2 separate regions of the Homo sapiens genome follow, and region 1 is reported to be linked to region 2. The links are microRNA targets in miRTarBase. Many come from high-throughput screens and were not tested one by one. Region 2 holds a microRNA gene; the other region holds the end of a gene's coding sequence. Distances are from middle to middle.

Evidence for each region. Region 2 holds the annotated microRNA hsa-miR-6126 (GUGAAGGCCCGGCGGAGA, at 2,397-2,414, opposite strand). A microRNA usually pairs through its seed, bases 2 to 8, with sites in the 3' UTR of a target mRNA and lowers its output. Matches are read on the target gene's strand: a 7mer-m8 pairs with bases 2 to 8, a 7mer-A1 pairs with bases 2 to 7 and ends in A, and an 8mer does both.
Region 1: the mRNA of PSMD7 is a reported target of hsa-miR-6126. Seed matches in the 3' UTR shown: 7mer-A1 at 3,224-3,230.

What each region holds. Positions count from the first base shown.
Region 1 is chr16:74,305,097-74,309,483 of GRCh38, reverse strand. It overlaps PSMD7 (proteasome 26S subunit, non-ATPase 7), which reads right to left. Exons shown (of 7, transcript NM_002811.5): 7 at 3,196-4,195. The coding sequence ends at 3,751. Among named protein-coding and RNA genes, the nearest start is that of PCHILR, 6.0 kb to the left of the region's middle.
Region 2 is chr16:3,483,026-3,487,412 of GRCh38, forward strand. It overlaps MIR6126 (microRNA 6126), which reads right to left and starts at 2,444; the gene lies at 2,356-2,444. NAA60 (N-alpha-acetyltransferase 60, NatF catalytic subunit) reads left to right here. Exons shown (of 8, transcript NM_001083601.3): 6 at 338-572; 7 at 1,674-2,036; 8 at 2,442-3,928. The coding sequence ends at 1,830.

The DNA of each region.
Region 1 (4,387 bases), 71 Mb from region 2:
TCTCAATTTTGCACTGCTACCAGGCAAAAATCGGTAATGCCAAGAGTTGAATGGCATAGGAATGTACACAGGTATTATGTGTAATAATTTGCAGTACATTTGCTTAGGGAAGTTGTAAACATTTTCTCTTGTGGGCCATATAAATCAAATGTTTCTCTGCCTTCCCACATGTCCTGTATCCACCGCATTTTCCCAGACAGGGCAGATGAAAGTGGTTTTGTTAGCATGTTATAGTCTAACAAACAATCCTAACTCATTCTCAAGTTTTATTCTGCTTAATGGAAAATGGTAGAAGAAAAAGCCTTTGCATAACTACCCAGTGAATGGGAGATTTCATTCTTTTCCATAAGTTGAGGGCTATTTCCTGTTTTCTTTTTCATTTTTTTTTGAGAAAACTAACCCTTCATTGAGATATTTTTAAGTCGAATATCTAGTATAAAAAGTTTGCATTGTTTCAGCTTGTTTTCATTTAAACCTGTGGTTGTCTTTCATCTGCTTCTGGCAATTTTTTTTTTTTTTTTTTTTGAGACAGAGTCTCGCTCTGTTGCCCAGGCTGGAGTGCAGTGGCACAATCTCGGCTCACTGCAACTTCCACATCCCCAGTTCAAGCGATTCTCCTGCCTCAACCTCCCAGGTAGCTGGGATTACAGGTGCACACCACCACGCCCAGCTAATTTTTGTATTTTTAGTAGAGATGGGGTTTTACCATGTTGGCCAGGCTGGTCTTGAACTCCTGACCTCAAGTAATCCACCAGCCTCGACCTCCCAAAGTGCTAGGATTACAGGCATGAGCCACCACACTCCGCCTACTTCTCCATTGAAGTGCTCTAGTTTTGGTAAAATCTTCTCCTTGACTTCAGGACCCTCTCCACATTTATCCCCAGTCTATAACTCGCATATTTCGTGTTTTCAAACAGAAAACCGTAATTCAGGAGTGAACAGCATCCTCTGTAAGGTGTCACAGGAGCAGCCTGAAATCCATTAGGCAGTCATTCTGAAGCTGTGGTGAAATCGAAGGGAAGCTAATGTTGCAGCTAGGAAGATGAGATCCAGGCTGAGGATCACACTTTTTCCAGAATACTTTTTTAGTGTTTCCAAAGCCAGCAAAAGCCGTTTAGAAGTCTCATCTCCAGAATGCCAGAATACACAAATGTAAGGCTTTATTTTAGGGGTGGGCCCTGGGTTTTGCAGTCAAGTCAGCCGCTATTTGTATGAGCAAGACTTCATCGGTAGCACTACTGGGCTCCCCCTCTTCTACATGATGGCAGCAATTTGGCCTTAGAAAATATGCCTAAGTGACTCCACAGGCTATAAGCTATTTTCTTCATAAGTAGAAATGGAAGATTTCTGTTAGGAAGGTAGAAGTCAGTTTTGTCCGTATGTGGGCCAAACTATTAAAAATAATAAGGCCTGGGGATTCCTATGTTCTTAGATGCTCAATAAACATTTCAGTTCATCAAACTATGACCAACTTACAAGTCTGTGGCATTGTGCTAGTTCACTGGACCCTGGGAAAGTCTTTTAAATCCAAATGATACTTTTTGTTTTTTAAAGAGACAGGATTTTGCTCTGTTGCCTAGGCTGGAGTGCAGTGGCATGTGATCACAGCTCACTGTAACCTTGAGCTCCTGGGCTCCAGTGTCCTACCTCAGCCTCTTCAGTAGCTAGGACTAAGGCACATCCCACCACACCCAGGCAATTTTAGAATTTTTTGTAGATGGCTCTTACTATGTTGTTCAGGCTGGTCTCTTACTCCTGGCCTCAAGTGATCCTCCTGCCTCAGCCTCCCAGTGTTGGGACTACAAGCACCAGCCACTGCCCCCAACCCTGCATTATGTTCTTAAAGGCAGACCTGAATCCTGTGCGGTGTCAATTCAGGTGTGCACTGGCCCCTGAGCCTTACATACAGGACCCGTTCCTTAGGATGACGTTGCGTTCCCTTGCTTAGAGCCTCAGCACCATGGCACCTGGCTCTCCCCCGATGCCTGGGTCTTGCTCTTGCCCATTTCCTAGCCAGGGTTTGTGGTCCAGGCAACCTGTCACATCAGTGTGTTCCAAACATGGCACCCAGATCTCAAAAGCTTCTTCAACGCTCCCATGGTTTGGGATACACCTCAAGTTTTAACTTACGTACTTCAAGTTTCTTTTATTCAATTAGATACAAACCGTCTGACTTTTGGCTTCTGAAACAGGAAAGTCAATTTTGTTGTTTTCACTGTACCATGCTTTTTTATCTCAGAATCTTGATGAACTCTGAAATGACCCCTGATGGGGGCATGCCTCTATTTATGCTGAATAAGAGCCATTTTACATTTTACTACAGGTTGAGTGCCCCTAATCCAAAAATTTGAAATGCTCCAAAATCTGAAACTTTTTGAGCACTTACATGGTATTGAAAGGAAATGCTCATTGGAACATTTCCTATTAGGCATGCTCAGCCGTTAAGCATAATGCAAATATTAAAAAAAAAAATTTCCTAAATCTTTTAATACTTCTGGTTCCAAGCATTTCAGATAAGGGATACTCAAGCTCTACCTATTCCCAAATTCCCACTAACTAGCTCTTTGGCAGGTCTATGGAATAAAAATCGATGCTTCTGATTACTTTAAGGCATTATAACCTCATGAAGTGGTTTCTGAGATGCAACTGAGTTTTTGTGCTATTTTATTGTATTCTTATATCTTTGAAGATGAATAATCCACGTAGTGCATTTGAGAGGTTCTATCTGTTCAAGAGAGGAAATTTAATATCCGTGACTACTGTATGTCAAATGATTTAGTGCCTTATTTAATTTGTTCCTCTAGGAGTCCTGTGCACTTATCTTGGGGGAAACATTGTTCCATTCTTAGTAACATGCCTGTTTGGCCTGTGGTCTGAGGTACTTACAACTTGCTGCAGTGTGGTAAATGTGTCCCTTTTGAAACACTGTTCTGGGGACTTCAGAGATGACGGACTGCAACCTACCACCTCATAAATGAGGGATCTGAGGTACAAACTGGAACCCGGGTCTTCTGGGCTCAGAGAACTCTCCTCACTACAGCAGACTGCCTGTTTCCATTTAGGGGAATGAGATGCTCTTTCATAAATGATACCAAGTGCAAGAGAACTTAAGGCAGCTCCAATCGAAGACTGTCTTGGCTGCTTCTGGAAACTACAGATCACTACTCCCGAAGTCAAAAACGACTAGAACACAGCTTAAAAATCAAGCCATTTAATTGTATCTTTGAAGGTAAACAATATATGGAGCTGGATCACAACCCCTGAGGATGCCAGAGCTATGGGTCCAGAACATGGTGTGGTATTATCAACAGAGTTCAGAAGGGTCTGAACTCTACGTGTTACCAGAGAACATAATGCAATTCATGCATTCCACTTAGCAATTTTGTAAAATACCAGAAACAGACCCCAAGAGTCTTTCAAGATGAGGAAAATTCAACTCCTGGTTTTAGAGATAAATGAATGAAGAGTACCAAAATATTTGTTGACTTCTCTTCATTTTTCTCATACAATCTGAAGCCTGAGCTGACTATCATATCCCCAACTCACAGCAGCGAAAGCTGCAGTTCAGATTTGAGATCAGTCTCCATTCACTTCCACGTAGCACCACAGCAAGAGTGACCGGAGGCAGAGAGCTCTTGTTGGGTCAGCTTTCTAATAAGCATGTCAAGTGAAAAAGAACCCTCTAGCAGCACACTGATTTAGTTTGTAAGATTTTAATTTACAAATTAAAAAAGCTATTTAATACATGTTTTACTTTTTCTCCTTTTTCTCCTCTTTCTTTACATCACTCTTTTCCTTATCTTTATCTTTCTCCTTGTCCTCTTTCCTATCCTTTTTGCTCTCTTCTTTCTCCTGCCCTTCTTTCTTCTCTGCATCCCGGTTGGCAATCTTGTTGTTGATGAGGTTGTGCAGGGCGACCACGGAACGGATCAGCGAGGCCAAGTACACTACCACCATCTGGTCATTGGTCTTCAGGTAAAAGGCCTTGACGAACTCCTGCAGGCTGACATCTGGCAGCAGGTTGAAGACGTCCTGCAGCTGGTAGATGATCTGGTGGTTGATGGGCAGCTTGCCTGTGGCGACTTTTTCCAGGTAGCTCCTGATATCCAGAAGCTTGGAGTTCAGTCCCTTCAAACCATGGACCTGGTTTGTGATCCGCTGGGACAGAGTGCCCACCGTCGTGTCTTTGATATCTCTGTAATAACCCACAGTTAAAAAGGGCAGGAAAAGGCATCAGGGTACCATGTTATCAGGCAAGTTCTTACATTCTAAGAAAATTCCTAGCTTTGTTGGGTGAGGCAAGTTTTTAAAAGAAAAATGTCACTTCCCCATTTGATAAAGATTTCGTTATCAATTACCTTAATTTCGTTATCATTTGGAACACATT
Region 2 (4,387 bases):
AGTCTTAATTAATTTTAAACCCAGGCCCATCTAGTCCATGTTTTCCTGGGCTCACATTTACCCTGTTTGTTGTCTGAAAGGGAGTCTCCATGCGGGCCCAGCCCATGGGAGGGCGCTACCAGGCCACCTCTGCAGTCCCTCCCAGCAGTCTGTAGCTACCAGGCTCCATCTGGCCATGAGATTTTAGGGACTTTGACAGTGGTGGTGAAGAAAGGCTGGTCTCTGATACGGTGGGCCGAGACATCTCCGAGAGACTCATGCAAAGCCCCCATCCTAGCCCAGTCATCCTTCCTTCCTAACTGCTCTGCCTGCATTACCTTTACCTCTTCTCCCCAAGGTTCCCTCTTACTTGAAAGTTTAAAGGATCACATATCAACCACCGCCCAGGACCACTGCAAAGCCATTTACCTGCATGTCCTCACCACCAACAACACAGCAATAAACTTCTATGAAAACAGAGACTTCAAGCAGCACCACTATCTCCCCTATTACTACTCCATTCGAGGGGTCCTCAAAGATGGCTTCACCTATGTCCTCTACATCAACGGCGGCCACCCTCCCTGGACGATTTTATATCCTTAACTTCTGGGGGAGAGGGACTGTGGCTTCCTGTCCATAAGGTGGCAGAGCCAGTGAGCAAGTTGGAGCTGTGGTCCCCCTCAGATGATGTTCAGGTGGCCAAGCTTATGGATGCTTCTCTCCCTTACCTGATCGTGTTGTGGGTAAACCTGACACACATTTGGGTAAATCGAGTTGCACATATTACCATGTTGCCCAGGCTGGTCTCGAACTCCTAAGCTCAAATGATCCGCCTGCCGCAGCCTCCCAAATTACTGGGATTATAGGCATGAGCCCTGCACCCAGCTGGAGAGCCTCCTGCTCCACTTGCACTGGGGATCAGCAGTGCACAAAACGGACAGGATCCCCTGTCCTCCCAGAGCCTGTGCTAGCAGAGGGGAAACAAGTGCGGAGAGAAGAGATTTTTACTTTTTTTGAATACTTGGGTTCAAACCTTCCTTATAGGATGCATGACCCAAAGGTATGCCCTTCCCTGCTTCTTCCTCCTTAACTTTCACTGGCCCCTGACAGGTCAGAGGGAAGCCAGGAAACTTTATAATAGTCAGAATGTGGCCCAAAAAAATGCTGTGCGTGTGTGTGTGTGTTTTCAAATTCATGAGTCTAGGATTTATTCATTACATAGAATAATAAGCAGGAAAGAGAGGGGTGACCCCACACTCCACAGGCCGTCTAGCTTATGTGAAGACAGGCATCCAGGGGGTCAGCACTGTTGACCCCCTCCTTGTCATATGGACAGGGCTCTGTCCCTCTTGCTGCCACAAAGGTTGAGAATCTAGGGAGAACCAGAAGCACCTGCCCTTCTGCCAGGCCCCTTCCCCACCCCCCGTGCATCCCTGGGTGTGGTGTCCACATGCCTGCTGCCTCACTCAGAAGGCCCTTCTGTCCCCAGACCCCACCCTCTGTTGTTTTGCACAGCAGAGGCCACTTCGTCTCATGAGCCTTTCCAGCTCTGCAGAGGCTTAGCGGGCTCTCAGCCTCCGAAGCCTGGCTTGCCATCTGCACACAGTCCCACAGGCCACTGCGCGGGCCCCTGATGACTGTGCCCTGGCGAGCGTGGTCAGGGCAAGTCGGAATCTTCCTTAACAGAGCCCCACGGACTACATCCAGCACCTGGGCTCTGCACTAGCCAGCCTGAGCCCCTGCTCCATTCCGCACAGAGTCTACCGCCAGGCCCACAGCCTGCTCTGCAGCTTCCTGCCATGGTCGGGCATCTCTTCCAAGAGTGGCATCGAGTACAGCCGGACCATGTGATGTCGGCTGGGCAGCCGCCACCAGGCCCCACCCTTCGGCCGCCCGCAGAGCCCGCCTTCCTGTCCATCTGACCCCTTCTGTTTTCTGCAAGGAGCTGCCAGCCATCTAACTGGGCTCGTCGGCCTGCCCCAGCTGCAGGCCCGGTGCTACACGGGCTCGGGAACAGAACATCGTGGGCATGCGCAGAGCATGCCCATCCGTGGCAGGTACGCCACAGCAGACACAAAGGTATGGGAGCTTGGTGCCTCCAGCCACAAAAGTGGAAGGCCCTGGATGGGCACAGAGAACGGCAGAGCCGGAAGGGGCCGTGGGGACTGCAGAGTCCACCACCTTATGCACCAGCACAGCCCAGAGGTTTGGTGACTTGTGCCAAGCTAACACAGCAGGCTCCATGGCAACTGGGCTGTGCACCCGACTTTGGATCCATCAGTGCCTTTATTTGTGTGGGGACCGAGAGGCGCCTAGTGGCTGCAGGCAGACACCATGGCCTGGAGAAGGGCTCATGCTCCTGGAGCACCCAGGCCCAGCTGTGTGGCCCATAGGCAGGGTGTGGGGTGGGCAGAGTGTCTCCGCCGGGCCTTCACCCTGCCCTGCTCTTCTCTTTCCCACAGGCTCTTCAGCTCCCCTCCCTGCTTCTGGAAACCTCTGCCTGCTGCCCTGGCCCTGCCCCCCTGCGCATGCACCGTCCCCAGGGCTGACCCAGTGTGGCTGCATTCACTGGGAGGGGCCTGCCCTCACTGGGCCTCTCCCACTCCGCTGCCTGTTCTTGCAGCTCCTTCCTGGAAAGCTGGAGGGGACTTTCTCCTGCAAGGGAGGAACGCAAGTATTATGGACACACTTGACCGTAAAGGCACAGGAGCCTCGGAACAAGGGGGCGCAATAAAGGGAATGGCCCGTCCCCTTCCAGAACCAGCCCAAAGAAGCCTGGGGGGTGAGGAGTGGCCCCCACTCCTCCATGAGGGGCTGATGAGGGGTGGGCAGCCTGGGGGAGGCTTTCCTCGCAAGCACAGAGCTCTGAGGCTCAGCCCCCTGGCACAGGCGGTCACGCATCAGGACGGTTCCTACTCCTCAGCACCTTCCGTGCAGTTACCAGTGCCCTGGGAGGTCACACTGCCCGTCGGACCTTGGCATGCTCCATTCAGCTGACCTGCTGAGGACAGGCATCGCCGAGACTCCTTGGGTCCTCCCCGCCCTCCCTCATGCTGCCACAAGCTGCTGCTCCAAGGCCTGGCCACATGCAGACAGGAGGAAGCTGAGCTCGACATTAGGCCTCAAGGCTGCCATCTGTCTTGTAGGGCCTGGCCTTGTGGGCAGGGGGCAGTCCTGTGCCTTGTGGGCCCTCAGCCTCTGAGGGCAGAGATGCTGTCAGTGCCGCAGGTGCATCACATACTTCTAGCATCCTCTCCACCCTGCATTCCAAATGCTGCTTGCTGCCTGCCCTGCCCTCCGATGCAGGGGTGGGGTGGGGGGCGGAGTCCCGCCCAGCATAGCTGCAGTGTCACAAAGCCATGGCAGAGGGTCCTAGCGGCGCCACCCTGCCCCAGCCTGAGGAGGAGGGAGAGGGAGGAACAACCCTGGGCAGACGGGGCCTCAGGGACCTGTGTCCTTCCGCCTCCAGAGCTGCCCAGCCACGGGCTCTCAGGGTGCTGGGGCAGCCCCAGGTCCCCTCTTGAACTCAGCTGGGGCCAGGGGCCCTCAGAATGAAGGCAGGCACCAGGCAGGAGCAGCATCCCCCTCCTTGACGGTGCTGGCAGGAGGGCCGCGCCATGCTGACTGCTTGAACCTCTGCTGACCTGACAGTGCTGGCGGGAGGGCCGCACCATGCTGACTGCCTGAATCTCTGCTGAGGCTGCCTGCCTGCCGGGCCCAGCTCAGCGCCCTCTCCACTGCGAATCAGTGGCGATCATGTGATTTCTATTTCTGCCCCACAGGGTAAGGGACGAGTCTTCTGGAAGGCTCTGCCATGGACATTTGTCCTCGGGCTCAGAGGCCCCACCCTGCCCCACACCTGCCCCTGATCACTGCAGTGTCCAGCCCAGTGTTGAACAGATTGTAGCGTTCTGTCTCATTACGAGCAAATAAATAGACTTTCATTGGAGTTCGTCACATCCTGTTTCCCGCACCCGCCTGGCTGCACCTCGGGCCTCACCCTGTAGCTGAAGTTGGCCTCGAGCTACTTGTCACTGGCAAGGCCCAAGGATGGCTTCCAGATAAAGGGGACAGTGGTTTTGTGTGATTAACCCTGTCAGAGAATGAGGACCTTTGGCCAGGCACGGTGGCTCACGCCTGTAATTCTAGCACTTTGGGAGGCCGAAGTGGGCGGATCACGAGGTCAGATCGAGACCAGCCTGGCCAACATGGTGAAACCTCATCTCTACTAAAATACAAAAATTAGCCGGGCGTGGTGGTGTGCACGTGTAGCCCCAGCTACTCGGGAGCCTGAGGCAGGAGAGCTTGAACCCAGGAGGCGGAGGTTACAGTGAGCTGAGATGGCGCCATTGCACTCCAGCCTGGTGACAGAGCGAGACTCCAGAAAAAGAATGTGAAACTGGGGAAG